Linked DNA regions of Homo sapiens. The protein of the gene in region 7 interacts with the protein of the main gene of each other region in a biochemical or structural test. Each region holds a gene or a part of one and is shown on either strand. Other genes may lie near its edges.

Evidence for each region.
Region 1: the proteins of RAF1 (region 7) and CDC25A form a complex in vitro, tested with the Homo sapiens proteins (one study listed by BioGRID).
Region 2: the proteins of RAF1 (region 7) and GNG4 form a complex in vitro, tested with the Homo sapiens proteins (one study listed by BioGRID).
Region 3: the proteins of RAF1 (region 7) and RANBP9 form a complex in vitro, tested with the Homo sapiens proteins (one study listed by BioGRID).
Region 4: the proteins of RAF1 (region 7) and RRAS2 form a complex in vitro, tested with the Homo sapiens proteins (one study listed by BioGRID).
Region 5: of the proteins of RAF1 (region 7) and MBP, one has a biochemical effect on the other in vitro, tested with the Homo sapiens proteins (one study listed by BioGRID).
Region 6: the proteins of RAF1 (region 7) and BIRC2 form a complex in vitro, tested with the Homo sapiens proteins (one study listed by BioGRID).

The regions. Positions count from the first base shown.
Region 1 is NC_000003.12:48,171,418-48,174,917, forward strand, and holds part of CDC25A (M-phase inducer phosphatase 1), read right to left. Parts: intron 3,041-3,500; coding exon 2,867-3,040; intron 1-2,866. UniProt on the Homo sapiens protein: Tyrosine protein phosphatase which functions as a dosage-dependent inducer of mitotic progression. Directly dephosphorylates CDK1 and stimulates its kinase activity. Also dephosphorylates CDK2 in complex with cyclin-E, in vitro.
Region 2 is NC_000001.11:235,587,285-235,590,784, reverse strand, and holds part of GNG4 (guanine nucleotide-binding protein G(I)/G(S)/G(O) subunit gamma-4), read left to right. Parts: intron 1-1,717; exon of another isoform or gene 1,718-1,788; intron 1,789-3,500. UniProt on the Homo sapiens protein: Guanine nucleotide-binding proteins (G proteins) are involved as a modulator or transducer in various transmembrane signaling systems.
Region 3 is NC_000006.12:13,642,336-13,645,835, forward strand, and holds part of RANBP9 (ran-binding protein 9), read right to left. Parts: intron 2,395-3,500; coding exon 2,210-2,394; intron 257-2,209; coding exon 144-256; intron 1-143. UniProt on the Homo sapiens protein: May act as scaffolding protein, and as adapter protein to couple membrane receptors to intracellular signaling pathways. Acts as a mediator of cell spreading and actin cytoskeleton rearrangement.
Region 4 is NC_000011.10:14,296,684-14,300,183, forward strand, and holds part of RRAS2 (ras-related protein R-Ras2), read right to left. Parts: intron 1-3,500. UniProt on the Homo sapiens protein: GTP-binding protein with GTPase activity, involved in the regulation of MAPK signaling pathway and thereby controlling multiple cellular processes. Regulates craniofacial development.
Region 5 is NC_000018.10:76,986,284-76,989,783, forward strand, and holds part of MBP (Golli-MBP), read right to left. Parts: intron 2,630-3,500; coding exon 2,594-2,629; intron 2,245-2,593; coding exon 2,212-2,244; coding exon of another isoform or gene 1,807-2,211; exon of another isoform or gene 1,420-1,806; intron 1-1,419. UniProt on the Homo sapiens protein: The classic group of MBP isoforms (isoform 4-isoform 14) are with PLP the most abundant protein components of the myelin membrane in the CNS. They have a role in both its formation and stabilization.
Region 6 is NC_000011.10:102,374,714-102,378,213, reverse strand, and holds part of BIRC2 (baculoviral IAP repeat-containing protein 2), read right to left. Parts: intron 719-3,500; coding exon 464-718; intron 358-463; coding exon 316-357; intron 225-315; coding exon 31-224; 3' UTR 1-30. UniProt on the Homo sapiens protein: Multi-functional protein which regulates not only caspases and apoptosis, but also modulates inflammatory signaling and immunity, mitogenic kinase signaling, and cell proliferation, as well as cell invasion and metastasis.
Region 7 is NC_000003.12:12,598,118-12,601,617, reverse strand, and holds part of RAF1 (RAF proto-oncogene serine/threonine-protein kinase), read left to right. Parts: intron 1-1,202; coding exon 1,203-1,230; intron 1,231-1,338; coding exon 1,339-1,466; intron 1,467-1,809; coding exon 1,810-1,927; intron 1,928-2,392; exon of another isoform or gene 2,393-2,505; intron 2,506-3,500. UniProt on the Homo sapiens protein: Serine/threonine-protein kinase that acts as a regulatory link between the membrane-associated Ras GTPases and the MAPK/ERK cascade, and this critical regulatory link functions as a switch determining cell fate decisions including proliferation, differentiation, apoptosis, survival and oncogenic transformation.

The DNA.
Region 1 (3,500 bases), about 36 Mb from region 7:
TCACCCAGGCTGGAGTGCAGTGGCGTGATCTCTGCTCACTGCAACCTCCATTTCCCGGGTTCAAGCGATTCTCCTGCCTCAGCCTCCTGAGCAGCTGGGATTACAGGCTCATACCACCACACCCAGCTATTTTTTGTATTTTCAGTAGAGACAGGGTTTCACCATATTGGCCAGGCTGGTATGGAACTCCTGACCTCGTGATCCACCCGCCTTGTCCTCCCAAAGTGCTGGGATTACAGGAGTGAACCACAGCACTCAGCCAGAATATTATTAAATATTGATAGATATTTTCTGACATGTATACAATGTAAAGTTTCACAAATGTTCTTGCCCTTATAACCCAGAATTTCATTTTTAATTAGAAATAAAAGGAAAATCAGGGGAAGGGAAATTCTAAATGTCCAGAAGGTGATTTATTCAATTATTTCTAGTATACTTGTAAGTCAAAACACTATCGGCCAGGTGCACTGGCCTGTGCCTGTAGTCCCAGATACTTTGGAGGCTGAGGTGGGAGGACTGCTTGAGCCCAGGAATTCAAGGCCAGCCTGGGCAACACAGTAAGACCTCTTTTCTACAAAAAATAAAAAAAAATTTTTTTTAAATTAACTGGGCATGGTGGTGCATGCCTGTAGTCCCAGCTGCTAGGGGGGCTGAGGCGGGAGGAGTGCTTGAGCCCATGGAGGCTGTACTGAGCTGTGATCGTGCTAGTGCACTCCAGCCTGAGTGACAGCGCTAGACCCTGTGCCCCCCACAAACAAAAAGAACAAAAACCAAAACCAAACAACTCTCCCAAAACAAAAATACTATGCAATTATTAAAATATTCTTTTAGAACAATACTTTAAAAACATTCATAAAGCATTAAAAACAAAAGCAGATACGATAAGGCAGTAGGCCTAAATGCTAAATGTTTTCCTAGCTGTCATCTCTCTAACCTTTTAAGACTGTGATGAGATTTACTTAAACCTTTTCATGCCACAGAAAACACAGGTAGTTCACCATTTTATAATGCTTAATACCAAACCTCAATATAAGGACAGTATAATGAAGGAAAAACATACAAATAAACCAGTGTTTTGTGTGTCTAGCCACAGAATAAATAGAAAAAATAACACAAAGGACCATAGGACTTAGGCCCAGACAACCATGACACTAGCTCACCCATGCCAGGTGCTGTGTCTAACACCTATGATCCTGGCACTTTGGGAGGCCAAGGCGGGAGGATTGCCCTGAGCCCAGGAGTTTGAGACCAGCCTGCGCAACATGGCGAAAGCCTGTCTCTACAAAAAATACAAAAATTAGCTGGGTTTGGTGGCACACACCTATAGTCCCAGCTGCTTGAGAGCCTGAGGTGGGAGGACTGCTTGAGCCTGGGAGGTGGAGAGTGCAGTGAGCGGAGATCATGCCACTGCACTCCAGCCTGGGTGACAGAGAGACCCTGTCTCAGAAACAGGAAACAACAAAACAGCCTATACAACTATGAGCAATGCAATGAATTAACTTGAAGAATTAGACAGACAGGGCTGGGCGCAGTGGCTCACGCCTGTAATTCCAGCACTTTAGGAGGCTGAGGCGGGCGGATCACAAGGTCAGGAGATGGAGACCATCCTAGCTAACACTGTGAAACCCCGTCTCTACTAAAAATACAAAAAATTAGCCAGGCGTGGTGGCGGGGTCCTGTAGTCCCAGCTACTGGGAGGCTGAAGCAGGAGAATGGCATGAACCCGGGAGGCAGAGCTTGCAGTGAGCTGAGATCGCGCCACTGCACTCCAGCCTGGGCGACAGAGCGTCTCAAAAAAAAAAAAAAAAAAGACAGACCTTTATAAAAATCAAGTATTTAATAGGCCATGATAGGTCTGGATTAAAAGGAAATAAAATATCTACAACAAATGATAATAAAAACATTTCAGGTCAAAAGTTATGAGACAAATCTAAAGCAGTGGGAAATTCATAGATTCAAATAGATTTATCCAGAAATAAGAAAATTAAAAACGAATGAGTTAACCATTCAACTCATGAAGCTGGAGACAGCAACACAACAAGCCCCAAGAAAAGCCTGCTCTCCCTAGGCAAAGGATGGCCTATTGAGGCAGAAGACTTTTAGACAATAATCATTCTACTAGTCAACACAGAAACAATTATGGCCAACAGCAAGCGGGGGCCTCCACCTTTGCCCAGCTGTCATACAGTGCCCCAGTCACCACCCCACGGGGATGGAATGAACTTCCACTCCCTCCCAGCAATAATGAGACAAGTCCCCACCCAAGGTGTCAATGGAGTTTGTGCTGGGGAACCCGGACTTCCACCCATGCCTTTCTTGCAGTATCAGAGGAAGCCTGCTAAAACGTAAAATTTACATAGACCGGAGACTCACAAATATACAGGAGACAATGGAAGAATCACCGGTCATACCAAGAACCAGAAAAATCCCAACTTGAACAGGAAAAGACAATCAACAGATGCCAACAACACTATGGATGGATGTTGGATTTGTCTTACAAAGATTTTAAAGCAGCCATCTTAAAAATGCTTCAACAGGCAATTATGAACATACTCAAAGCAAATGAAAAACCAACATGAAAACAGCCAAGTATCAGCCAGGTGTGGTGGCTCACACTTGTAATCCCAGTGCTTTGGGAGGCCAAGGCAGGAGGATCACTTGAGGCTAGGAGTTCAGGACCAGCGTGGGCAACATCGCTAGATCCCATCTCTATTAAAAGAAACACACACACACCCACACACACACACAACCCCACAAAACCCCAGCAAATCTTAGCAAAGAAAATAAATGAACCACTAAGTAGAAATTTTTAGAACTGAAAAATACAGTATCTGTGCTAGAGCAAAAAGGAACCTAGGAAACTAACCTCATGGGCCTTCTCTGGATTAGTTGACTCTTTGGGGCTGGCCCCAGACATGCTCTTCCTCCTCTTTGTACTTCCAGGTGGAGACTCCTCTTGAGATCGTTCTGGTCTCTTCAACACTGACCGAGTGCTGGAGCTACACAGGGAAGGGGAGTCAAACAGCTTGCATCGGTTGTCCTTACAGGAAAAAAAACAGACAGACCCATCTTTCATTAAAACCTGTTCACTTGAATGGTAAGACAAATAAACCGAAGGTTTCCTGGGATGATCTAAGATCAATTCTAAATTAGCCAACAGACACTGCCGATTCATCTAGTCCTAGCAACTCTCACAGGGCCTGGCACATAGTAGGCACTGAGCACTTAGTGCTCAATGAATATATACTCAGCTGACATTATATAGAGATGAGCAAAACGTCCTTTGCCCTCACAAAAACTGTCTACATAATCCTGCGTCAAGAGAAGTGTGACCTTCCAGTCAGGAACACATTTTTGGCTTGCCTATCTTCCCCTCCATTTTATTACTTGCACCTTGCTTAATTAAGCAGGTCAACGGGTTTAAATACCCCACTTAAATCCAGAAAAGATGCACAGTAGCCAGGTTATAATAAAAATGGGGGCATCTTTGGTTAAGGTAT
Region 2 (3,500 bases), on a different chromosome or scaffold from region 7:
GGGCCAGAATCAGCCTGGGAGATTGTAAAATACGGACGTCCAGGTGTGCAGGGCCACAGTGCTGGGAGAAGCCAGAGCAGCCCCTTGGAGAGAGAAAACACAAACACGCACACATGAAATCGCTTAAGGATCACTCTGGGCAACAAGGGTGACTGTCCTAGACACAGAATCAGGGTGAGCCGAGGGCAGCAGAGCAGAGACCGTGGAGCAGGCCTGTTTACCCAGTGCTCCCGAAAGACGGCTTTTCATCCTTACATTAGAATCTCTTCCTTTAGTTACTGAGGGGCCTCTCAGGGGAATCTGTGGTTACCTCTCCACCTTCTTTTTTTTTCCAGACAGTCTCACTCTGTCACCCAGGCTGGAGTGCAGTGGCGCAATCTCGGCTCACTGCAATCTCTGCCTTCCAGGTTCAAGCAATTCTCCTGTCTCAGCCTCCCAAGTAGCTGGGACTACAGGCACCCACCACCATGCCTGGCTAATTTTTGTATTTTTAGTAAAGAGGGGATTTCACCATATTGGTCAGGCTGGTCTCAAACTCCTAACCTCAGGTGATCCACCCACCTCGGCCTCCCAAAGTGCTGGAATTACAGGCATGAGCCACCACACCCAGCCTCTCCACCTTCTTAAGCAAGAATGCAGAAGATTGCAGGGAGGGAAGACTGTTGATGTTGTTGCTTGTTTTAAGATGGTCAGGTGCAGATTGCATAAATATATTTGCATATTCTGAGGAGGAAAAGCGCCAGAGACGTGGACATTACAGGATGGAGGGGTGAGTGTAGGGCAGATCCCTTGGGGAGGGGAGCGGTCTACTGACCTGTGAAGTGTTAGCCTTGGCTGAGAAGATGCCTTCAGCTGCAAGTGACAGATGACCCAACAAATATGGCCTGAACCATGAGGAGTACATTATCTCATTTCAAGGATCAGGAATAGACTTCCAAGGACCCACCCAGCTCAAGGATCCAGGTCATTTTCTCCACTAGACTAGTGACCGTGTCCTTGGTTGATTCCCCAGTGGTTTTATGGCTCTGGCAGCTGCAAACACAACTCAAGGTGGCCAAAGACAGAGCTTTCTCCCCTTGTCCCTCCGTCGGGGAGGAAAACCCTCCCTATGAGTCCCTGCAGATTTCCCCTGATGTCCCATTGAGGAGGACAAGGTCACGTTGTCAGGTTCACAACTATACCAAATGCCCTGCTTGGGGTCAGGTTCCAGCCCATGCTGAGGTTCGAGGGGAGTGGGCGGATGGGCAGGTAGCTGAAGGAACACTCGTGGGGCCATAAGCAGGTGAAATGTAGTTTTACTCAACAGGTCTCTCAGCAGCTGACTCATACCAGCTCTCTCACACTGTCCGCCTTGACTCAGCTGTCTGCTCTGGCTTTGTGGCTCCTCTCAGCAGCCAGCTCCCACACATAGCTGCATGGCCGACTCTCCCCTGCCTTCGGGGTCAGCAGCTTAACTCTTTCTCTCTCTGGGCACGAGCTGAACTGTGCTGTGCCCTGGCTCCCCCTGTCTACCTGCAAAATGGACAGCTTTGGCTCTTTCTCTGGGCGCCAGCATGCCTGTACAGTGTCAGCAGGGCAATAATAGCTTTTACAAACAACAGTGGCTTAGAGCCAAATGATGAGCCTTCCGATGTTATGGCTATATGGCTGTGATGACAAGTGGAGTTATACGCCTGCGCTCTAAACTTGCTGAGTCACTCTGGATGTTTACCTCAGCCTATCCTTGACCAAAGCACAGCCATGTTCCTGACACGCGTGCTCTGGCCTTACAGCAAGGGAGGCAAGAAAGTGAGTCTGCCATTGTCAGCCCCTGGGGAGGAAGGAGGGCCCTGCCGGCAGGGCAGCAAGTCGGGAGCAGCTGTGGGTGGTGTCCTACAGGCTCTGCTGTGGAGGAAGAGCTGCTGCCCTGAGTGGAGGCAAGGATGGATGTGGGTGTGGAGTGGAGTAGGTGGGGTGGGGAACATTAAGGAGGGTTCTCTGCTAATGGCCATTCTGTGTAGACAGAGGGGCTGAGGTCCTCTGCTGAGGAGGAAAGGTCAGAGGTGATGAGGAAGTGATGAAGACTGGAAGAAGAGGATGAAGGGAGGGGGAGATGATTTGGGGCAAGGAGTCCTATTGCCAGGTAGCTCTGAGGGCCTCGCAGAGGCTGGATTGTGGATGTCTGATGGGCAGAGTTTAGTGGGGGGGGTCTCTCCAGCAGCGCTGAGCAGCCCCTTCGTGAGTGTGGAGAGGGGAGGAGTTGGGTCCATACCGAAGCAGGTTTTAGGGACAGAGGAAAGGGCCAGAGAAGCAGACGGCTCTTGGGAGACAGTGGTGGTAGTTGGGTCATGCTGTTGAGGCTAAGTATGGAGCCAGGGGAGGAGGAAGCAGCAGAGAAGGGGCTGAGGGAGAAGCTGGGGTCGGAGAGCACAGCCCCCGCTGGGGGCCAGGTCCAGGGGCCTCGGCTGTGGGTGGCAGACATGGGCTGGAGAGTGGACGCACATGGAGGGCCTGAGAGGGAGGCCATGGAGGGATGGAACCCCCAGAGGGTCACCCACCCGCTTATTTTATCTCCAGCGCACAACAAGGAAAGCACAGTGCGCTGGTGGGACCTTCCCACAGGAAGCCTCCAGCCAGAACTCTCCTCTGCGGAGAGGGTAGGGCATGTGGAAAACGAGCCCTTCTTTTGAACAGCGGAAGAATGAGGAAGGGCTGAGGGATCAGGGCCGTCTGAACAGCGCCTGGGAGGGAGAGAGGTGGGCGCAGCTGCAGGGGCCTGACGGGACTGAGAGTCGGCTCTGCTGCTTTCCCCGGTAACGTTAGCTGTTCCCTCCCCGCCACATGACCCACCTGTGCACATGTGCACACATCCTCAAGGACTCACACTTATACCCACACACTCACACTCCAGACACAAACACACCCCCCACACCCTCTCACACACTCCATACACTTACACACACGTTCACCCCGCATGCTCTGAGACGTGCCTGTATTCACACTCTCACCTTCACACACACACACACCCCCACCCCACACTCTCCCACACTCACCCTCACCCCCACCCTGAACCCTGACCCACACCCACACACACCCTCACACACAGACACCCAACACTCGCACACATACCCCACAGTCACACACACACCCAACACCCTCCCACACTCACACTCCACCCCACATTCACACACCCCACCCCATGCCCTCCCACACTCACACTCACCGCCACCCCACACCCTCCCACATTCACAACCCCAACCCACACCCTGACACACACCCACAACACACCCACCTCACATTCACACACCCCCACCCCCCATCCACACTCTCACACTCACCCCCCACCCTGTACCCTCACACACGCTCACCCACCCTCACACACACACCCCCACCCCTCACCCTCATACATGCTCACACACGTGCTCACACACACACTCACACACACCCCACCCCTGACCCTCATACATGCTCTCACACTCTCACACACACACACCCCTCACCCTCACACACACCCCAACCCA
Region 3 (3,500 bases), on a different chromosome or scaffold from region 7:
AGTGAAAATAAAATTCAGAGGCATCCATTTTAAATTAATATATTTGAAATTTTTTTAATTAAAAAAACAAAATTTCTAAAAATTAAAGTAACCAAATCTATAATCTGAAAACAAATGTTAGCCATGCACCACAGTGTCCTTACTTTGTCTATTCTTAATGGAAGCTAATTCTTCTAGAACGGTCTGGTCTGTAGATCTGGCAAAGGCCTCTGCTGTGGCACAGTACCCATGGTGGACTAAATAAGATGAAACCATTCTTAAAATAAAAAGAAGAAACATACATCTTTTAGTGAAGAGAATACATGCTTCATACTACAATTTATATAAACAAAATCTATTCTGGTGTTATAAAAACGAACCTATTTCCTTGAAACAAGGCGTTAAGAACCTCACCTTTAAAGTAAGCTTTTGAAAAACATCATTTTGTTCTATTCATGTACTATTTTCGAAAAGATAACTGCAAATGCTATGTTGAGACTACTCTCCCTAAAATAAATATTACTTGAGAATCAAGGACATTAAATGACCTTTTCTTTGATTCTTGGACTCTCATTACCCCCAGGTCCCTTCCTATCTTATTATTCAGCCCTACTAACCATAATTTCTATTTTGACTTTATCATATGACTTATTCCAGTATTGCTGGCATTCTGTAAAATAACCAACTTTAAAATAAAAGATTAACTCTTAATGTTCCAGAGTTCAACCATCTTCTTTACACACCGGTTAAATGAAGTGGGATCACAAAGTATGTACAGAATACTAAGGTGAATCCAGAGAGACAATCTTCCAGAACATGTCTATAAGTGTACTACTAATTAAAGGAGGAATCAGCCTTCTAATCTAAATCAATTACTATGGTTTTACCCAAGAGATTTATCAAATATGGTTTACATGTAAGTGACACATTTCCAAGACAATAATCTTTTAAAAACGTACCAGGTAGTCAAAACATATACTTACATCTACCCACAAGATGTGGTTAGAAAAACTGGTGATGCAACAATATTAACCCAAATATCTGTTATCTCCAAACAGTCAATTTTTAAACTTGCCTCCACCTGACACTACTAAGGGCCAGTTAGAAAATCGTGGGAAGCAGTGGTTCACCACAGGAGGAGACTGAGGCAAAGAGCGGAGGGAGAAAAGGGAGGAAAATGTCTAAGAAACAGATCTGCATCTTATTTTACCCAATTGTTCAAATTAATTTAAGGGGGAGGGGACCTTTTAGAATGGACTTCTCAAGAGTTCATGGTGAACATCAAGTCAGTGAAGAAGTGGGTGGAAGGATCCTGGTTATAAGGTTAAGATAAATGTTTTCTACTATCTTGCCATGATACTCAGTGGTAACCATTTTCAGAGCATTAAAACAGTGTGGCCCCAGAACAACCCATTCTAGCTTCACTTCGTGGTGACTATAGGATTCTGCATCAGGGTTGTCTATTCTCAACTGGGCTGGACAAAAAAACTAGTGTCCAATCTCTGTAATACAGATGATAATAGCTCCAGGGACGAAGTGTGATTTCAGAGTCATCATCATGTCTCCCAATCACTTCCTTTTCTAAAAAATACCCCCAACATTTTATTACAATTTTAAAGTTAAGAATATTCAAAGCAATTATAAGGACATTAAAGATGAAATGTGTTGGACCAACTGTATCTGAAAGTCTGCTATTTTCTTGACCTGGATTATAATAGTGAAGAGGACTTTTTAAATTTAATGGTATTTATTTAAATTTTAAGTCCATACTTAACTACTGCTGATAGTTCAGATATTAAGAGCTTGGACATAGCCAAGTTCATGACCAAAAACCACAGATCCTGATTATAAGATCTAGATTATCTCTCAACTTTATCTTTTCCATTAACATTATTAAAAGTTAAATTGTATAACCTACAGAAATCATTAAATCCTATTACTAAGAATAGCAAATGAATTAACCTAGCCTAGGTGACCTAACATCATTTTATTTCCTTCATCAAATTAATTCAGACTGAAATACAATTCTGTACGTGTGTCAAACAATTGTTTTTAATTTGTTTAAATAGTGGAGTAAATTACTTTTCGTTGAGAGATTAAAATCAATAATATAATAGATATGTCAGTATATAAATTAGTGGATTAAAAAGCTTCTGTGGATACCAACAGAATAAATGTCTTATAAAAAACAGATTCTGAATAGCATCAATTGAAATTTCTTCACTCTTACTTTTGTATCATGGTCTGCCATTCTCCTTCTCGATCTCCGATAGGAAATCGATCTATCTGTGCCTGGATTTTGGTTCTCCACTCCCGCATATAGTCTTCTATATCAAACACGAAAGGATGTTGCCCAAAATTGGCATCGACCACTTCTCCTGGTGTTTGAAGCCCCACAGTAGGATACAAATTTGGCTGTAAGATAGCATATTTCATTAAACATCTATCCATTTTATGTTAGATTTAATAATTCTTTTAATGTTACATTTAAAAGAATAGAACTATAAATTTACTTCATATTTTAAAATCCCAATCAAAATATTAGAAGGCTAAAACAAATGATCTAAAATACATTATATGTTAGATGAAAAAATATCACTTCCTGCAATGTAATCATCAAGAAAAAACAAAGAGACCCAAGATCTCTGTTTTATTTATTCAGGGACTACGTTGTATTATACCACGTGGTATTATGCTACTAATATATGTGCATGTAATTCTTGTTCTAAGATTATGTCATATAGTAGTTACAGAAATTCAACTATAAACACATAACTCAGGTTTATCCCACATTTTATATATGATACATTTCTATAAACTGCATGTTAAAGCTAGTTATCATAAAAGTATGATCTCAGCTAGTCTGGCATTTAATAGCTTAAATTTACTGTTTTCATTCTGTATATTTGGGATGCCTAACTTTACAAAGGGAAGGGGATAAGACCATAACTATAAGCAAAACACAGTGCCAGGAAGAGTGGAGATTCTCTATATTAAAAAAAAAACACAAAACCTCAAATATATGTATTTCAAGGGAGGAAAAGGATGAATCTGAATATACCCAAACTCAGAAATGCATTCAGGTACACTCCATGGTTTCAAGGTTAATCAAGATGAAAAGGTGATAACTTCAAGTAAACAAAAAATACAGGGGTCATTCTTTTGGCTATGTCACTAATTGGTTGTTACATCTAAAGGCAGAATGAGTTTCTGAGTGGCTACTAAATGCCAGGGTTTAATCATAATTCTGTGAGGCCACTATTATTATTTCTACTTCAAAGACAGAGAAAATGAGGATTCAAGGTTAAATAACTTGCTCATGGTCGTTCTGCTAACAAATGGCAGAGATGGAATTGGAACACAAGTTTGTCTGATACCACATCCAAAACTGATTTTTCCTCTTGCAACTCCAAATCCTACCATATTTTCATTTTCTGTATTTATGTCTTATATCTTTAATAGTTATAACAAGTATTTTTCAGTACAAAACAAGGTAAAGATCAAGAGCGGATAATTTCTGT
Region 4 (3,500 bases), on a different chromosome or scaffold from region 7:
AATATCATTTTGAAATTTTTTCATTAGTAGGAACCTCAAACTTACTCTTTCACTGACATCTTTTGTTGTTTTTTTATCTTAAATTCTATTCCTCTCTTCTCTGATCAAACCCTCCCAACTACCGAAGTCATTACCATAAAAAAAAGGGGGGGGACAGTTAAAGTATCCAAGTAAGAAGGGAAGAATCTCAGCCTACATTTCAGTTTTATTTAAAAGGGTTTTAAAAAATCAGCTACTCAGGAGGCTGAGGTGAAAGGATCACCTGAGCCCAGAAGGTCAAGGCTGCAGTGAGCCATGATCATACCACTCTGCACTCTAGCCTTGGTGACAGGATGAGACCCTGTCTCCAAAAAAGAAAAAGGTTTAAAAAAGATAACAACAATAATCTGAGAGAGTGCATTTCCCTCTTCTTACAGAAGGGCACTAACCAGGACACCAACATCATCCTCCATTTGTTCTGAGTATCTCCTTTGATCTACTTTGGACTGACTTCCTCAAAGCCCATTTTCCCACTGGCTCATTACAAAATCTGAAGGAATGATTTGGAAGGAGACAGCTTAATGCTAGGAACCAGCATCAAGAGTATTTAGCCTTCTTCAGGCAAGGGTTCCTGGCTCTTGGGACCCAACATTCGTGGCGACCTATGCAAACACCAGAGAGCTACTCAGAAACAAGCACTCTTGAAGAGGACAGAAAAGAATCCCCTGGTTTTGGGAGGAGATATATTAATCTGCCTGATACCATGACTTTACATATTTTTTTTGAAGGACACTTTCCACATTTTATTTAAGTCTTAAGAATAACTTTAAAGCCAGGCATGGTGGCTCATGCCTGTAATCCTAACACTTTGTGAAAATTACTTGAGCCCAGGAGTTCCAGACTAGCCTGGGCAACAAGGTGAGACCGCATCTCCACGAAAAATTTAAGACTTAGCCAGATGTGGTGGTGTACACCTGTAGTCCTAGTTACTCCGGAGGCTGAGACAGAAGAACTGCTTGAGCCCAGGAGTTCGAGGTTACAGTGAGGTATGATCATGCCACACTGCGCTCCAGCCTGGAAGACAGAATAACACCCTGTCTCTTAAAAAAATTTTTTTTAAATTAAAATTAAAATGTTTAACTTTAATCACAGAATTCCATATCTATAATCCTATTTGTTTTTTGATGTTTCACTTCAATGCATGATGTATTGAACAAAGTCTGTAAAAGAAATGTTCACCAACAGCAGTAACTTTTAGTAGGAAGCCATCTCCTCCACCACTCCATCACCATTTAAAAATAAACAGGTATCAATTCACTTAACTAGCCTTAAAAAAAAAAAAAAGCAGGTATCAAAACAATCATGAACTTACTTTTTGGCACCCATGCCACTTCAAAAAGTAAATAAATTTTACTGGCAACAATATTCTCTACACCCACTATTTTAAACAACAGGAATCAGCAGTCTTTCACAAGCAAATTGGATAAAGCATGCGCTGTACTTTTTAAGATTCATTTCTTGAAACATGTTTCCCCATATGCCATGCTTTTATATCTTGTAAAACCTGAATTTCACTGACTACTCCCAGCTGATGCCTAAAAGTGCTACACTGTCCCTACTGATTTGGCCTAAAATATAATAAACAAATGTTAAATACATTTTTTACAAATGCCAAGCCATGCACAATAGCTAGAATTCTTTAAATGTGACAGTTCTTGGCGTTGTGAGATTAAGATATTAACATGCACAAAAGATTGTTGGTTTGATTGTTATATAAAAGATTGTTGCAACTTTGAAGTCCAGTATAATAAACTGTTTTACCTCTACTCGCTATGGACATTTCTTTGGATGTCTTAACTCTTGAAACACAATCTTAGTATTACAAGAATTTTGCCATACTGCTACATGCATTTATTTCCACTCATATTAATTTTTAAGACAAATTCATTGTTGGGATTTTTGGATATTTAGGTTCACACCCAATCTTTGCTGTGTCCTATCTTCATACTTTGTCTACAGAGACCATCATCTACTGGCTACACGTAAATTGTAAAGAGCCATCCACATTGAAACAATCCTCCTCCAACGAAACATCACTCTGGGAACTGCCTATCATAGAATCAAAAACCTCTTTCCCTCTCAAAATTCTAAGAATCCATAGGTCAGAATATCCCTAAGAGCATTCACTGTGTGCAGGTAACAAATACAGGCATCACCTCTCACCAAAAAGGCAACATTTTTGTTAAACTTGGGTACCAGATATTTGAGGCAACAGATCACCAATAAGTAATCAGTCCCCGTGATGAAGTGTCGTGGGTTTAATTCTAACTCTGCTATTCCCTAGCTGTGGGACCTAAGGCAAATCACTTTACATGTCTAATCTTCAGCATCTGTAAAACAGAGACAGGAACAAAATCCTGTGAAGCAGGTAAAATGAAATAATGCATATGAAGTGCCAAGGCATGCTGATTAATAAATGTCAACCATAATAATAACTATTGTTTTTGTCATGCAGTTAAATGGTCTGAATTAGTGTTTTTTACTCAAGTATAAAGATTTGCTAAGCTCAGGAGTAGCTGTAATAATTCCAGTCCTAGTTACACTTCAGACCAACCACACGACCTCTGGGATTTGGTATCCAAACGTTGTGAATCAAGACAAAAGCTGGGGTTCTGGAAATAGTCTCTGGATCTGAGCAGCAACTACACAGTTAATTTACATAAGTAAAAACCCATCAGGCTGTACACTTAAGATCTGTACACTTTTTTGTACATATATGAATTATACCTCTAGAGAACATATAAATTAAATGGCTCCCTGCTGCTTACAGGATTCCATAGTTTCTTTACATGCTATGCAAAGCCCTCCAGGTTTTATGTAGTATGCAAAGCCATCCAGTTTGATCTGTGTTGTTCACCATGCAAAGCCTCATTCCCACTACTTGAAACCCTTCAGCCAATTGTCCTTGCTCTCTTGATTTCACTCACTCATTTGTTCAGTGATCATGTATGAAGCACCTACTAAGTACTCCATAAAGATACTCCATAAAGACAAGGTCTCTATCTTCAGAGTCCAGTGCCTTTTATACAACCACCAGTAGTTGAGGTATTACTGGGGGCAAGAGAAGGATTGGGGCATTTTAAGTCTATACCCAAGCCAAAAAACAAACAGCATGAAGTGCCAATACCATGCTTGTTCAGAAGGCAAGAGAAGTTAGACAGTTAATACTACAGTTATGTACAGAACTATGTATGCGTTCACTTATCAACACAGCCTCAGCAATTTGCCAGAAAAGAAAACAGTCTCTCTCCTGAAATTATAAAAAGTTACCAACCACAGCCCAGAAAGGATGTTCTGTAGCAGAAAGAGAAAAAAAGAGGAAAAAAAAGCAAGCACAGTATTGCACTGAGCTAGACAGTAAAGGTTCAGGCAAGGATAGGGAAGAAGGGTGGACCCAAGGGCTCAAAAGAGTACACTGAGGGGAAAGGAAGGGTGGAGGATGGAGAGAGCACATGTTTCCT
Region 5 (3,500 bases), on a different chromosome or scaffold from region 7:
CCAGACTGTCCCTCCTCTATCAGCCTGCAGCCTTTCTTCCATTTCATTAAAGTGTTTTAGGACAGGGAGGACCTTGACCAACCTAGCCCATCTCTTATTTAGAGGTGAGGAAGATGACACCAGAGGCCTCAAGGCTTCCAGAGCACCTGGCTGCACCCTCAGCCTCTGCTGGGGGCTTCCCACCATACAAGCTACTTGCACAGTTTTCTTTTCATTCAGCCTGTGCTTGGGAGTGAGCATGGCCACTCAGAACCAGGCAGCTGCTTTCGTGTGAACAGTTGATTCGGGGGCTATCCAGTGAGGTGAGGGACGGGATGTGTGGCAAGAAGGTCTAAGCACTGCACACGAGGGGACAGCCAGCCTCGCTCTTGCGTCCTAGAGGTTTCCAGGTTCATGCTCACTCCCTGATGGCAGAGGGCAGGTTGCCAGCCTGGCTCTACATGGCAGAAAGCCACTTCCCTGCAAGCGTTAAGTCCTTCTGTCTTACTCTATTGCTTTTCTCCAAAAATAAAGCATTTTTGAGAGCTAAATCCGGGGATTGACTTTCAGATTAACAATCTGCGCGGCCTTTCCTCCTTTCCAATCCTTAGTCATGTTTATCTTTGGGGAACCTAGAATGTACCAGGAAACACACAACACAGCTTAGAAAGAGAAAGTGGGGGCTCTCTGGAACTCCAGACAAGGAGAGAGTCCTGCGGCTCTGGGAAACAGACAAGCAGACAAAATGCAGAGAAGGATTTTGCTTTGGAAAAAAGAGAAATTCAACAGACATTAGTAGGACCCAAAAGGGAGAGATGCAGGGAGGAATGCAAGGGTCTTTCTTGTTAGCTGCTGGGGCAGAACGGCCTGTGTGCAACCCCCCATCGCTCCACATTCAGGGAGGATCCGGCACGACGGCCCCAAAGTCCACTCCTAGAAAATTAAGAGCAGATAAAGCAGTAGCTAAAATAAGATTTCTGGGTCAAAAATGAATTTCATTCTTCTATCATCTTTGTCTCCTGCTGGCATAGAAAATAAAAAATTAATTGTGAGTACTAGTCCATGTACATTTGCTACATGATTGTCATCGTTTTGCAAATTCATTAGGTCAGAAAAAGCAAGTCAAATATGCATTAATGGAAAACGTTTCGGTAAATATCTTAGTTCATAATTCAGTGTAATCATGTGTGGGACTGATCTGGGATCCTCATGGTCTCTCAAGTACCCTGCCCCTTCCTCCCTCTCTTCCTTCCTCTTCCCCACCTTCTGTTTTCTTTCCCTGTTCTTTCTTCCTGTTCTTTCTCCTTGTTGTTTTTCTTTTAAAATGTATTCATTCATTTATATGATGCTTATTAATTGAGCAGAAAGTGTAGGTAGGCTCTGTTCTAGCGTATGAGAGCATTGCAGTTTCGGAGACAGACACAACCTATCTACAATACGTTGGTGGTTATTCCTCCATTTTATTCTAAAATTATAACTTTTATACAGTAAGAATCATATCTGGTATTTGCTAGTAACTAAAGTCTGTAAGTTTGGTTAGAATATAATGATTGGCATTTTAATTTGGCTCAGACACCAAATTTTTTCACTAGAAAGTTCAAATTGGCCATTTTAAACCTTCCTTGAAAGTTTGCTTTCAGTATTAACCAGCCTAAAATTCCTAAGGAAGATTTTCTGGATGGCTTGATATCTATGTTTTAATTATTATTTAAACACATACAAAACAAAAATCTTTGGATTAATGAGGTTATTATAAATCGAGCAACTCTATTTAGCCTCTTTTTCTGTTCATCAGCAGAATCATTTTCCCAGTGTCAGCATCTGGGGTCACTGAGACGGGCCAGCCAGTCCCACTTCCACATGCGGGTTCCTGGGGCTTCTCGCACTGGTTGTGTTGGAGGAAGTTAAACATTTTCTCGGACGTGGTGTTGCTCCCTCCCTGGGAGGGAGACCAGTCACGTCGCCTGGGAACCCTCTGGGAGAAGAGGATCTGGCCTTGCAGGGCTGGGTCCCCGGCACAGAAGCAAGAGACCAGACCTTCCGGAAGGGAAGACCACGTTTCATTTCCCCAGTGGAAGACAAGGCGGCCCGATCCCAGCTGTGGGCAGAGAGGTCTCGAGAGGAGAGAAAAGGAGGCCAGGAAGCAACCGAAACAGAGCAGAACACAAAAGTTGCGGGGCTGTGAGGACTGGGACGGAAGAGGAAGCCGATGGAAGTGCGTTCGTCACCTACCCAGCTAAATCTGCTCAGGGACAGTCCTCTCCCCTGCATGAGGAAGACAGAGAAATAATGACATGGTGGTCAGTGAAGGGAAAGTCCTTTCAATCAACAGGAAACACAGTCAAAGCACAGTGGAGCTGAGGTGGTAAAAACAGGTTCCACCCGGAGCTCCGAGGGGGGCCGCAGGCTCAGGGCCACAGCGGCTGTGCAGGTGCGGGAGGGACAGGAGGGGTGCATGGATCTGCCGACCTGTTCTACTTGGGAGCTGCCTGGCAACACGTTTTGGGATGGATTCTGGTAGCTCGGAGCCTAACTCTCTCTTTGGTACATTATGGGATTTTAGAGAAGGTCTATCAGAAAAGTGATGATCAATCAAAACATTCCAAGGTCTTACCTTTCCCTGCGACGGGGGTGGTGTGCGAGGCGTCACCTGGAAAGACACAGAGAACCGTGGGCTGCACTGGGAGCCCTGTGCCGCCGTCCATTTCCTAACGGGCTCCTGCCTGCTGAGGGTGGCTAGCATCCATCAGCTGCCAGAAGCACCCGGGTGCCCAGCCTCCCCACTTCTGTCCTAGTTGGTGAAGAAGTATAGACCTGAGATTGAAAATATTCTAGATGATGCAGATCTCCCAGAGCACTCAGGAAGTGTTTCAGAGGATGGAAAACACCTCCCAGAGGCTCCGTAGCTGGGGAATGGGCCCATCTTGGGACACTGAGGGAGGCGGCGGACTTTGCTTCACCGTGAGCCCTTTCCGGGGCTAGGAGTAGCGGGCCCTCTGACATTCAGAGCTTCCAAGGGGATGTCCCCAGGTCTGCAGCTCCTAAGTGCACTTATCGAATACGAGCATAAAATGTCTGCTGCACTGAGATCTTGGAATTAGAAGCCTGTGGTTTTGTTCTTGTTTTTAATCGTCTTCGTTTTGCATGGCACTTTTCGGTTTACAGAAAAACTGTGCAGAAATTAGTTTCCACATACCCCGAACAGTTTCCCTTATTAGCAACACTGCCTTAGGGCTCTCTCGGTGCTGTGCACGCTGTGGGTTTGGACAAGTGCGTGGTCTTCAGTCACCATGGCAGCCTCGACAGAGCGGTTTCGCTGCCCGAAAAATGCCCTAAAAATGCCCTGTGCTCTCTCTGCTGCCCCCTCCGCTCCCAGCCCATGGCAAGCACTCTCCATAGGTTGCAAAGCCTGTGTTTTTAGGCTAAGCGTTACATGGGAGCCTAATCTCAAGAGAAGTGAGCTCTCTGGAGAACGCACGGAGCGCACGGTGCAATCCGTGGCAGATACAGTCGGGAAGCGC
Region 6 (3,500 bases), on a different chromosome or scaffold from region 7:
TATGCAGGTTAAAATATAGACTATTTTTCTTTAAGAGAGAAATGTACGAACAGTACCCTTGATTATACCCCTGCAAATAGGGCATTTTCTTAGAGAAGGGGCACATTCCTGGCATACTACCAGATGACCACAAGGAATAAATACAACAGAAACTTCTTTGTCCATACACACTTTACAAGTTCGTTCTTCTTGCAACCTCCTCAATTGTTCTTCCAGTGACAGACCTAATAACAAAAAATAACTTTAGTGAAATTGTTTCCACTTCATTAAAAAAAAAGGGTAATAGTTCATGTTGGTTTTAAATCTTTGTTTTACCTGAAACATCTTCTGTTGGAATATACTTCATATTCTTATCCACTGAGGAAAGAAAACATAAAAACCATTACTCTACTAAATACAAAACTGAGCCACCGCATCTGGCCAGTCCTAAGAATTTCTAAAATAATTTTCCCAACAAACTCACCAAATAAGTTCTTATACAATGTAGAGTCAATTTCTTTTAGACAGTTTTTGAAGATGTTGGCCGCAGCATTTCCTTTAACCAAAATGGTATCAATCAGTTCTCTCGCTTGTAAAGGTATCTGTGTTTTTTGTTTAATAATATCATGTTCCTGTTTATTAATTACATTGGCCTTTAAAAGATTATCCAGGATAGGAAGCACACATGTCAATTGTTGAAAGAGAGCCATTCTGTTCTTCCGAATTAATGACAAATCATCTTCATTAAAAAAAGAAAAAGAAATCCATTAGATTTTAAACTCCTTTAACTATACTCATATAGTCACTAATAACCAACCCTACAAACAATTTAGGCACTAAATAAAGTTCAAAAAAGAACAAAGTAACTTGTTTGCATTTGTAAGTTTGTTGTTTGGAAAACTTCCAGAGGAAGTCTCTGTTTAATTTTTAAGTCTATATATTTACATGTCCTAGAACTCCGCTTTTACTTTATTTTGTTGCAAGAGATTTGTAGAAGACAGTAAAAATTTCCCCCCACCATATATAATAATACTCTTGTATTTCCATTATATCATTTTACTTTTGTAAGCACTTTCATAGTAATTTGTCTCATTTGATACAGTGATCCTGTCAATTAAACAAGGCGAGTATTACTGCCTCTCATTTTTACATAGGGAGAAAAAAGACTCAGAAAAGAATGAGTGGCCTAAGATCACAAGAAAGAATAAGCTGCAGAACCAGGCATCCTAGACCAGTGTTCTTTTCAACACCCCATACTTAAGACGTGGTATTGTAGTATTGTAGGGTTTGAGTTGCCAAGTCAAAACAGACCTAGGTTCCAGTGTTGGCTAGGCCCACTCACTAGCTATGTGTCCTCATCCTTCCCCATACACCTCAGTTTCCTCATCTGTAAAATATACATAACGGTACCTTCCTCAAAGTTGTAAGGATTGAATAATACATGTAAAGCATCTGGCACAATATGTGGTACATAGTTAACTACCATTATTATTTTATAAATGTCTATGTTTATAGCAATTAAAAAAAACTACCTAAGAATCAAGCCTGACCTTTTTTTAAAAAGCCAATGTTTTTCCTTTAATATCGCATCACATAAAACTCCACAGTTAATTTATATTTATGGAATATGGTAGTTCCTTCTTTTGGTATCTGAATCATTATAAAATTTGTCTATTTTCAGACTTTCAAAAAAATTTAAAAAGTACATCTCTACAAAGTACCAGTTTAATGAGAAATAAATTATAAAAACAGAAGCCTATCTTCTTTCCCCTTTTACATCTCTCTAGAAGTGAACTGCTCTATTAATCTCAAAACTATAAAATTCCATTCTGTGACAACTTTTTCTTCTACCTAAATAATTCCTCTCACTGCTAACCAATTTGTTCTTCACCTTTTCAAGATCTCCATGTCATTCCCAATTCTACTTGCACAAGAGCTATCTCCTGGCTTTGCTTCAAACCTCCTATTCTAATCTAGGTAGCAGTCAGGTATTTCAATGAAGTTCTCTATATTAGCACCCTTAACTCATCTTCCGTATTCCTTACTTGCCCTTTCCCCTATTAACACTGCCAAATCTGTAATTCAATACTATTTTCCAACCCATACAAAGTATGAGAAAGTCATAAATCTAAGGTGACAGTGATTTCATATAACCTTAGCTGGATTTCATTACTACTTAACAATCCTTAAATTGACTTTTCTTAGGCCCTTTCTTTCACCAAGTCCCTCCCACTTCCCAAGTCAATCTACCTAATGCTTAAAAAAAAAAAAAAATTGACGTGCTAGGAGCTGTGTTAAAGTGTTTTATTTGCAATATCTCATTTAATTCCTACAGCAACCCTATGGGAGTCATACTATTATTATCCCCATTTTACAGATGAGAAAGCCGATGTCTGGTTGAATAAATAGCCAAGCTAGTAACTGATAGAACTGGAATTTTTTTTTTTTTTTTTTTGAGATGGAGTCTGGCTCTGTCACCCAGGCTGGAGTGCAGGGGCACGATCTCGGCTCACTGCAAGCTCTGCCTCCCGGGTTCACGCCATTCTCCTGCCTCAGCCTCCCGAATAGCTGGGACTACAGGCATCCGCCACCATGCCCGGCTAATTTTTTGTATTTTTAGTCAAGACGGGGTTTCATCGTGTTAGCCAGGATGGTCTCAATTTCCTGACCTTGTGATCCGCCCGTCTTGGCCTCCCAAAGTGCTGGGATTACAGGCATGAGCCACCGCGCCCAGCCTGGAGCTAGAATTTAAACACAAATCTGTTTCAATGTAGAAGTCCAGACTTTAAATATTTTGCTACACGGTCATGCAATAAGGTACTCTTAAGTTATTCCTGTCTTTACTTACAAGCTTAAAAAGAAAGCATCTTCCAACGCAATACTCCAATACATATGCAACCTTCGCCTCTCTGCTGGCCCTTTAACCCTGTCTTTTGCACACTAGTCTCGCCAGCTAGTGTATATACTCCTTGACAGCAACCACTGTGATTAGGCACAGTATTTGGCACTGGTGCTCATGCTCAACAAATATTTATTGAAGGAGGGGAGGAGCCAAGATGGCCGAATAGGAACAGCTCCGGTGTACAGCTCCCAGCGTGAGCGACGCACAAGACGGGTGATTTCTGCATTTCCATCTGAGGTACCGGGTTCATCTCACTAGGGAGTGCCAGACAGTGGGCGCAGGCCAGTGGGTGCGCGCACCGTGTGCAAACCGAAGCAGGGCAAGGCATTGCCACACTTGGGAAGCCCAAGGGGTCAAGGAGTTCCCTTTCCGAGTCAAAGAAAGGGGTAACGGACGCACCTGGAAAATCGGGTCACTCCCACCCGAATATTGCGCTTTTCAGACTGGCTTAAAAAACGGCGAACCAAGAGATTATATCCCACACCTGGCTCGGAGGGTCCTACGCCCACGGAGTCTCGCTGATTGCTAGCACAGCAGTCTGAGATCAAACTGCAAGGCAGCAGCGAGGCTGGGGGAGGGGCGCCCGCCATTGCCCAGGCTTGATTAGGTAAACAAAGCA
Region 7 (3,500 bases):
TGTGGAACAAGTATCTTGTCTATACTGTAGTTACACAAAGAGAATATAGTAGGACTTCCCCCCAAAAAATGTCCTTTTTTAGGATATGGGGGCCAAGTGGTTTTATATTATTCTATTATACTGTTCTATTCCAAGCGATGAATTTTAGATTGGGGTTTAGGTCTCATAGAGCCCTCTGCAATTTAAACTATTTTCCAAACAGTTTCTAATAAATTCTAAAGATAGCCTTTGCTTTCTCCCATGAGGAGAATGTAACCGATTTCCAAATTTACCCATAAGGCAGTGTTTTGTGGTGAAAGAGCTGAGGGCTGAGATCCATATATGATGGTTTCTGGTTCTATTTCTGCCACCTACTGGTTCTGCCAAGTGACCCTGCCAAGTCTCTCTACCTGTTCAGATGTGTTTTCTTATATGTAAAATGTAGGTTTTGAACTTGGATTTGTGGTCTTTCCAGCTTTCTGTGATTTTAGGCTTGGATAAAGTATATAGGCTGCTTACCTTTTTCAAATCCAACTTCTAGTCAATTTAGCCTAACTCCTTGTGGAGTAAGAGTGAGCTTCCCCCAGAATCCACCTCCCCACCCTGGCTTTTTAAAAAAAGTTTTGAGCCTCAGTGGAACAAGAATCCCAATCTTTGGAAGGGTCTCAGCTGAGAGTAACTTTGCTAGCTTCCCTTGAAAGAGTATGTTTGTTGTGTACATTGCTTTCTTTTGAGAAAAAGAATGTGGTTTTCATTATATATGAAAAACTAATACCAGGCTTGGCACGGTGGCTCACGCCTGTAATCCCAGCACTTTGGGAGGCCGAGGCGAGAGGATCACCTCAGGTCAGGAGTTCAAGACGAGCCTGGCCAACATGGCGAAGCCCTGTCTCTACTAAAAATGCAAAAATTAGCCGGGCGTGCTGGTGCACACCTGTAATCCCAGCTACTCGGGAGACTGAGGCAGGAGAATTGCTTGAACCTGGGAGGTGGAATATTAAATCCTTCTAATATTTAATGAAAAATCAGCCTTGGAGATACTGGCCACTGATATTTGCTGAATTTAATCAAGGAACGTTGATTAGAGTATGTTTAGGATTTCTATGGTTTTTAGAGGTTTTTATAATCTATTTTGTTCTTGCACATCCTCCTCCTCTTTTTTCCCTCCCCCAGAGAAAATCTTTTGTGTGTAGGAGTTGACCAGCTTTCCTTTTCTGTTTCAGGATGCAATTCGAAGTCACAGCGAATCAGGTACTTTTCCATAGTCATTTAGCCAACAATAATGGGCTTTTTTTCTTTATGCGGTGTATCTTCTGTTGGCTTATCCTTGTGTGGCTTCTGTTTGTCTTGTCTATTAAGCCTCACCTTCAGCCCTGTCCAGTAGCCCCAACAATCTGAGCCCAACAGGCTGGTCACAGCCGAAAACCCCCGTGCCAGCACAAAGAGAGCGGGCACCAGTATCTGGGACCCAGGAGAAAAACAAAATTGTGAGTATAGACAACAGTACCTCCTGCCAATTAGGGTTCAGTAAGAAAAACCTCGTTGGAAATTAGAATACTTAAACTTATTTTGGGAGAAGATTCTAATAAAATACATTCAATGAAGGAGATTATAAATGTTACTGTCATTTTTGGCACACTTGCATCAGACAGTTTGCCAGTGCTATAACTAAAATGGTATTTCTCAAAAGACAAAAATTGGAAGTATGGTTAATATGTTTATCTTTAAAAGATATGGAAACAGATGACATGGGTTGATCCTTTGATGCCCTCATTATCAAAAGATTATTACCATTGCATGGAGTATAATAATGATCTCTACTTGTTTCAGAGGCCTCGTGGACAGAGAGATTCAAGCTATTATTGGGAAATAGAAGCCAGTGAAGTGATGCTGTCCACTCGGATTGGGTCAGGCTCTTTTGGAACTGTTTATAAGGGTAAATGGCACGGTAAGCTTGGGGCCCTCCCTTTACTAACTGCAGGGCTTTGGTGTGAAGTCAAGTTTCAGCCCAGGGGGCCAGGAGGAGGAGAGGACTGAGTGCTCCTGGGCTTATAGCAGTACTCTCCCTTACATACTTGATTATACCTGAAGATTGAACTTAATTCTTTTTAGACTAAGTTCTTATAAAGCTCCCAGGATAATTAGAAATTAGTGAATAAGACTTGAGCCCTATAATCAAATGTCAGGAGTACTTCTCCTTTAAACTGATTAAATACAGTCTGCACATGGGTCATGCTTGGAAGCTCCTTAAGTGAGCAAGAGTCTGCTGCTATGGAGGGAGCATGGGTTCTAGAAACTTTAAGCTGGAAAGGACCTTAGAGATTGAAATGGGGACTGATTTGCCCATGGTCATGCAGTTAGGCATAGGAAAGCTGGAAATCTCCTGAAGTAACTTCTCTTTGTCCTGCCCTAGGATTAGCTGTGGGTGTCCCTATCAAACAGGGAAGGCATTGACTTAATTCTTGAATCTATGTGGAATATTAATGTTCTGATTTTAATGGAAACACTTTGTCACTTGGAAGAAAGGTACTATTTAACTTATGTAGTTACAGCTTGTGTATTTTGGCAACACTGAACATTTTGGCAACATACTTAGCATTTCTCTGTTAGGTTTTTAATGCCTCTGGCTTTAGGACTTTGGGAAATAATAGGTATTTCCTTGAAAATGCTGCATGTTCCCAAAAAGTCATCTCTTCTAAATTCAGATTACAATAAAGCAAAAATCACAGAGTCCCTTGGTGCCTATACTACTTTGGATGACACTGGAATTATCTTTAGAGATAAATGTGCAAAGATTGAGAGAAGTTAAAAGCATCAAATGAATGGAGTATTAAAATTCAAGGTACTGAAAATATCAAACACCTCCAGTTTTGAGTACTTGGTGGTTTTTTTTTTTTTTTTTTTTTTTTTTTTGAGATAGATTCTTGCTCTGTTGCCCAGGCTGGAGTACAGTGGCACAATCACAGCTCACTGCAGCCTCCAACTCTTGGGCTCAAACAGTCCTCCTGCCTAAGCCTCCCAAGTAGCTGGGACCACAGGTGAATGCCCAGCTAATTTGTTTTACCTTTTGTAGAGACAAGGTCTCACTATGTTGCCCAGGCTGGTCTCCAACTCCTGGACTCAAGCAGTCCTCTTGGGTCTCTCAAAATGCTGGGATTACAGGCATGAGCCACTGTGCCCAGCCTTACCATGTGCTCGTTAATGCATGGTTTTTACCACTTGTAATTAATCATCTGACCAATTTCTAGTTCCTTAAGAGGATTGGCACCCGACTGAACATTTGTAAAGTACATGTGGAATGATTCCTTTTCCTTTGAAAATTGCATCTGGCTGGGCAGGGTGGCTCACGCCTGTCATCCCAGCACTTTGGGAGGCTGAGGCAGGCAGAACACTTGAGCCTAGGAGTTCAAGAACAGCTTGGGCAACATCGTGAAACCCCATCTCTACCAAAAATTAGGTAGATGTGATGGCACTCGCCTGTAGTCCCAGCTACTTGGAAGGCTGAGGCAGGAAGATTGCTT